Linked DNA regions of Homo sapiens. The protein of the gene in region 1 purifies or fractionates together with the protein of each later gene. This does not show direct contact. Each region holds a gene or a part of one and is shown on either strand. Other genes may lie near its edges.

Region 1 (3,500 bases):
AACTATTTCAGGCCTACGGAAAAAAATCCAGAACCTCAGGGCCTACGACATTAATCCCTCTCCAAAACAAGGTCACCAATATGTATACACAAATATATACATATAACTACCTCAGCCTTTAGGAAAATGGGCTGGTCATTTTTGAGGGAAGTGGAAGGGAGTTAAGCAATGCCCATCTACGTGCTTGCTTCAAAGTACCAAAATTTAGCCTTAGATAATAAATCATATTAGAAATTGTAATAGTTTCACTTTCTAAGTACTAAACTGTATATAATAGAATTATATATAATTTTGCTTCTATGAGAAGTGACAGTCTTCTAAGATATGAGTTAGTATGTACACCGTAATGCTTATCAGCTCATTTGTCCAGGAACTTATCCAGACAAAAACCTAGAATAACACAAAAATATCTGAGCTGCCAATATAGGTTTCACAAACTACATGCACAAAGCTTCTTGCATGTTACTATCAAAGGATGTATTTAAGCCCTCAATTTGTGGAGTACAGCAGAAAAAGCACTAGATTGAAATAACGTCAACCTAGGTTTGAAACTCACCATTTAGGCAGTCCTAAACTTCAGTTGCTCTTACATTGTTTACCAACACATATAGGTATTAACACACAGAGGCAAGAAACAGGCTGATAGAGCTAGAACTACTGGGCTGCGAATGTTATCCTTTCAGGAAGAACTCCAGAGAATGAAGAAGAGGACCAAGAGGACAGAGCATGAAGCCTTTTATTTTCAGGCTTTGAAACCTAATGAATTTACTCTGCTGGGTTTGGAACATGTTTGAGAACAATGACCCCTTTTTACTTCGAACTTCTTTTTGGAATGGGAATGTCTATCCTATGCCTCTCCTACCACTGATTTTTAGAAGACTTGTTTTCTGCTTTCACAAGTCCACAGATGAGAGGAATTTTGCCCCAAGAAGGATCATACTCCAGTTTCACACATAGCTGATTTAGATGATTGAGATGAGATCTGCCACTTTTTGGGTTGATGATATTAACACTTACATGAGATTTAGAGTTAATGCTGGAATGGGCTGAGAATTGCTAATGCTGGGATGGGGTGAATTTACTTTGTATGTTAGATGGATATAAATTTTGCAGGGGGCCAGAGAATGGACTCTACTGGGTTGAAGGGTGTCTCCTGAAATTCATGTCCACCCAGAACCTTAGAATGTGACCTTATTTGGAAATAGAGTCTTTATAGATGTAATCAAGTTAAGATCAGGTCATACCTAATTAAAGTGAGCCCTGAATCCAATGCCTGGTTTCCTTACAAGGAGAGACAGACACACAGAGAGGAGACAGAAAAGGTCATTTGAAGGTGAAGGCAAAAATTGGAGTGATGCAACTGCAAGCCAAGGACTGCTAGGAATGAGCAGAAACTAGGAAGAAGCAAGGAAGGATTCTTTCTTAGAACCTTCAGAGAGACCATGGCCCTGCTGACACCTTAACTTCCAGCCTTCCAGAACTTACAGAAGAGCTTTCGGTCACTTTAAGACACCATGTTTGAGGTACTTTGTTAAGCAGCCTGAAGAAACTAATATACACATGGATACAATTTAAATTATACATAAGCACACACATTCGCGTACCCTTCGGAGTTTTAATTCTATGTCCCTGCAGTCAAATGTTCAAATGCTGGTCCATCACTTCTTAGCTAGAGATTGAGGATCCCTAATCTGAAAACCTGAAATCCAAAATGCTATAAAACTCAAAGCTTTTTGAGCATCAAAATTATACTCAAAGGAAAAACTCAGTGGAGCACTGTGGATTTCCCACTAGGGATACTCAACCTGTGGGTTATTTATTTAACATTTACTTAACATCTCTATGGCTGTTTCTCAAACTGTAAAATTGGGACAAAGAATTGGGCAGATTAAGAATAAACATGTAAAATGCCTGGAACTATCAAGTACTTAATAAATATTAGCTCTGAGGTTGTTGTCAAAGTCATGGTTAAATGTGTATCTTCTTTTGTCAACTGTTTTTATAAAGTCCTTCCTATATTCATCAAGTAAGGCTTAAGTGGTTTTCCCATCGATATTTAGAGGGGCATTTCATATCTTAACAACATTAACCTTTGTCTGTCAAATTTGCCACCAATATATTCTCTGGTTTGTGAAAGATGATTTAATATGAAATCATATCTGTTGACTTAGTGGTTTATTATTTTAAGCTTCAAAAGCCATCTTTCAGAAGTTTGCTCAAATATACAATTACATTGTGTTCTAGTAAGTGTTAATAAAACTGGCCAGGCGCAGTGGCTCACGCCTGTAATCCCAGCACTTTGGGAGGCCGAGGCGGGTAGATCACGAGGTCAGGAGATCAAGACCACCCTGGCTAACACAGTGAAACCCCATCTCTACTAAAAATACAAAAAATTAGCCGGGCGTCGTGGCAAGTGCCTGTAGTCCCAGCTACTCTGGAGGCTGAGGCAGGAGAATGGTGTGAACCCAGGAGGCGGAGCTTGCAGTAAGCCAAGATCACGCCACTGCACTCCAGCCTGGGCAACAGAGCAAGACTGTCTCAAAAAAAAACAAACAAACCAAAAGTGTTAATAAAACTTTAATTTTGTTATAGTGTGAGGCAATGACTTTCTGATAATATCACTCATAAAAAATGGTAAATGGGCTACAATTTTTCTTTTTGTTAGTTCTGTAAATTACATCCAATACAGAATTTCCCAAACATTAATATGTCTATCAGCTGGGAATATTGTTTAAATATGGAAACCCGGCCAGGTGTGATGGCTCACGCCTGTAATCCCAGCACTTTGGGAGGCCAAGGCGGGCAGTTCACCTGAGGTCAGAAGTTCGAGACCAGCCTGGCCAACGTGGTGAAACTCCGTCTCTACTAAAAATACCAGGTGGCGGGTGCCTGGAATCCCAGCTACACTGGAGGCTGAGGCAAAAGAATTGCTTGAACCCAGGAGGCAGAGCTTGCAGTGAGCCAAGCACCAATGTACTCCAGCCTGGGCGACAGAGCCAGACTCTGTCTCAAAAAAAAAAAAGATTCTGCTATATATATTTTTCTATGATGTGATATTGGCTGGGCACAGTGGCTCACACCTCACGCCTGTAATCCTAGCACTTGGGAGGCTGAGGCAGGCAGATCACTTGAGCCCAGGAGTTCAATACTAGCCTAGGCAACATGGAGAAACCCTGTCTCTATTATAATATTAAATATATATATATTCTAAGTCCCTTCAGGTTCATATAGACCTAACTAATTCTTTTATTACAGCTAATAATTATCTGCAGAATGCATCCACCATTAATTTATTTAACCAATTTCTATTAGCAGCATTCAGGTTTTGTTGTTATTCATAAATATTTTGGATAGAGTACTATAAACAAGATCGCTAAATCAAAGACTATGTGTATTTTCAATTTTAACATTATTTTCCAAAAAGCCTGTAGCAATTTCTAGTGTTTCCATCTATATGATTGTTCTTTTCCGACATTTTCACAAGCTCTAAGTGTTTTTTT
Region 2 (3,500 bases), on another chromosome or scaffold:
TCTACCAAAAAATACAAAAATTAGCTGGGTGTGGTGGCGTGCACCTGTGGTCCCAGCAACTTGGGAGGCTGAGGTGGGAGAATTGCTTGAACCTGAGAGGGTGAGGTTGTAGTGAGCTTAGATCGTGCCACTGCACTCCAGCCTGGGAGACAGAGTGAGAACTTTTCTCAAAAACAAAAAAAAAACAGTATGTGTATACACACACACACACACACACACATACACACACATATATATATATATTTGCTGTGTTGTTTTTCTTAACATGGATACTCTTTGAAATGGGCAGGTAAGCCCTTTGAGCTGTCTCCACTCGTCTGTGCAAAATATGGCTGGGTCACAGTGGAATGTGATATGCTCAAGTGCTCTAGCTGTCAAGCTTTTCTCTGTGCCAGTTTACAACCAGCTTTTGACTTTGACAGATGTAAGTATAAGGTACAAATTACATTTTTCTCCACACTCAAATATATACTATCCTGGTTTTCTGGGGGGGGAAAAAAGGTCATTTTAGTTTGATCAAAAAATGCGTACTTCAATCTTTTTTTTTAATCTTTTTTTTTTTTTTTGAGATGGGGTCTTGCTTGTTGCCCAGGCTGAGCAAGATGTAATAGTGCAATTACAACTCACCACAGCCTCAACCTCCTGGGCTCAAGCGATCCTTCCTCAGCCTCCCAAGTAGCTGGGACTACAGGCGCAGTGCCACTACACCTGGCTAATTTTTGTTTTTTTTTTGTAGAGGTGGGGTTTTACCAGGTTGCTCAGGCTAGTCTTGAACTCCTGAGCTCAAGTGATCCGCCCACCTTGGCCTCCTAAAGTGCAGAGATTACAGGGGTAAGCCATAGTGCCTGGCCAGTCTTTTTTTTTTTTTTTTTTTTTTGAGACGGAGTCTCGCTCTGTCCCCCAGGCTGGATGGAGTGCAGTGGTGCGATCTTGGCTCACTGTAAGCTCCGCCTCCTGGGTTCACACCATTCTCCTGCCTCAGCCTCCCAAGTAGCTGGGACTACAGGTGCCTGCTACCACGCCTGGCTAATTTTTTGTATTTTTAGTAGAGACGGGGTTTCACCGTGTTAGCCAGGATGGTCTTGATCTCCTGACCTTGTGATCCACCCGCCTCAGCCTCCCAAAGTGCTGGGATTACAGGCGTGAGCCACCGTGCCCGGCCTTTTTTTTTTTTTTTTTTTTTTTTTTTTTTAAACTAAGCTAGCTACTGCAGCATGGACTTGACTTAATGTAATCTAGGTAACAGCAGCATGTTTACTTTATTATTCCAAAATGTATACTTCTAGACGAAGAGTGACAAAGGACTTTTATGAAGTCTCACACTTTGGAATGCTCTGCTTTATAAGATACATGGGGGCCGGGCGCAGTGGCTCACGTGTGTAATCCCAGCATTTTGGGAGGCTGAAGTGGGTGGATCACATGAGGTTGGGAGTTTGAGACCAGCCTGACTAACATGGTGAAACCCCATTTCTACTAAAAATACAAAACACTACTCAGGTGGCTGAGGCAGGAGCATCGCTTGGGCCTGGGAGATGGAGGTTGCAATGAGCCGAGATTGCACCACTACACTCAAGCCTGGGCGACAGAGCAAGACTCTGTCTCAAAAAAATAAAAAATAAAAATAAGATACATGGTATCTCCTTTGTTGATCTTAGGATCTCAATTTAAAACCTGTTTTGTGAAAAATATTAAGATTATGTACTTGATAATATTTTCACATTTTAAAATTCTCTTATTTTTAGTTAAATCTCTGCTCTTAGAGGCCATTCATTGGATTTTGAATCTATATAGTGTTTTTTAAGGTGTTGCTGTTTATGTGGATTTCAGATAAGCAACGATGTGCTGAGCTGAAGAAAGCCTTGTGTACTGCCCATGAGAAGTTCTGTTTCTGGCCAGACAGCCCATCCCCAGGTACTTATTTTTGAGAATTCCTGTTCACCATTTTTCCTTCATCATTGCATTTCTAATATTGTCTGTTTGTGAAAACCTAGTCTTTGAACTTTCTTTTTCTCCTTTTCTTTTTTTTTTTTGAGATGGAGTTTCACTCTTGTTGCCCAGGCTGGAGTACAGTGGCGCGATCTTGGCTCACTGCAACCTTCGCCTCCCGCGTTCAAGCAATTCTCCTGCCTCAGCCTCCAGAGTTGCTAGGATTACAGGCGTGCGCCACCACGCCCAGCTAATTTTGTATTTTTAGTAGAGATGGGGTTTCACCATGTTGGTCAATCTGGTCTCGAACTCTTGACCTCAGATGATCCGCCCGTCTCGGCCTCCCAAAGTGCTGGGATTGGGATTACAGGGGTGATCCACTGTGCCCGGCCTCTTTTTCTCCTTTTCTATTTGCATTATTTCCAGAAAAACTTATATTCACTTGTGTTATTACTTACCTTCATGAAGTGCATTTGACATGCTTAAGGCTTTAGACATATATATGCATTATCCCATTTAATCCTTACAGGGGCCCTGGGAGGTAGATACTACCAACCCAGTTCTTTTGGTTTTTTTTTTTTTTTTTTTTGAGACAGAGCCTCGCTCTTTCACCCAGGCTGCAGTGAGGTGGCACGATCTCAACTCACTGCAGCCTCCACCTCCGAGGTTCAAGCGATTCTCCTGCCTCAGCCTCCCGAGTAGCTGGGATTACAGGTACACGCTGCCACACCCTGCTAATTTTTAAAATTTTTTGTAGAGATGGGGTTTCACCATGTTGGCTAGGCTGGTCTCAAACTCCTGACCTCAAGTGATCTGCCTGCCTTGGCCTCCCAAACTGCTGGGATTACAGGCATCAGCCACTGTGCCCGGCCATAACCCAGTTCATTTAGGTGAGGAAACTAAGAATCAGAGGTCTTAAAACCAACTAGAGAGAAGCTATAACTAAGTTTAATCTGATTTCAAACCCTCCGCTTTTCCCACCACACCAAGCAATGCCATGTTCTACCTAGGTTTCCTGTAGAGGGAGTACTAACAGCAATAATGGTGGAAGTTAAACAGGGTTCATTTGCTGAAGAAGACTCACAGGACCCCAAGTGAGAGTGATCACAAATCTGCAGTTTATTGCAGTAAAACAGTACACTATCACAGCAGCACTGAAGTAAGGGTGTCATTACAGCCACAGGCTGCCTGTCTGGGAAGGCCAGGTCCAACCTCCTATTTCCTGTCTATATAAGGGCCATGAGAGGACATACTCTCCCTTGAATCAGGAACTACTGATGTGTGCACAGAACACTTTGGAATAAGAGAGCCCAAAGTGTAATCTCAACTGGGTTTTTAAAAATATTTTGTTCTTTGGCCAGGCACAGTTGCTCCCAACCATAATCCTAACACTGGGAGGCCAAGACAGGAGGATTGCTTGAGTTTAGGAGTTTGAGACCAGCCTGAGCAATAAATATAGTAAGACCTCATCTCTATGAAAAATAAAAAATATTTTGTTGATCACATAGGCATATTCCTGCTGAGTAAACAGCTTCAACAGCAGAGCCCTCTGGTGGGGAATCTAAGAGCAAGTA

The links. The genes of interacting proteins can lie anywhere in the genome.
Region 2: the proteins of AASDHPPT (region 1) and ZC3HC1 fractionate together in Homo sapiens (co-fractionation; one large-scale study listed by BioGRID). This does not show direct contact.

What each region holds. Positions count from the first base shown.
Region 1 is NC_000011.10:106,084,162-106,087,661, reverse strand, and holds part of AASDHPPT (L-aminoadipate-semialdehyde dehydrogenase-phosphopantetheinyl transferase), read right to left. Parts: intron 1-3,500. UniProt on the Homo sapiens protein: Catalyzes the post-translational modification of target proteins by phosphopantetheine.
Region 2 is NC_000007.14:130,037,875-130,041,374, reverse strand, and holds part of ZC3HC1 (zinc finger C3HC-type protein 1), read left to right. Parts: intron 1-273; coding exon 274-424; intron 425-1,827; coding exon 1,828-1,911; intron 1,912-3,500. UniProt on the Homo sapiens protein: Required for proper positioning of a substantial amount of TPR at the nuclear basket (NB) through interaction with TPR.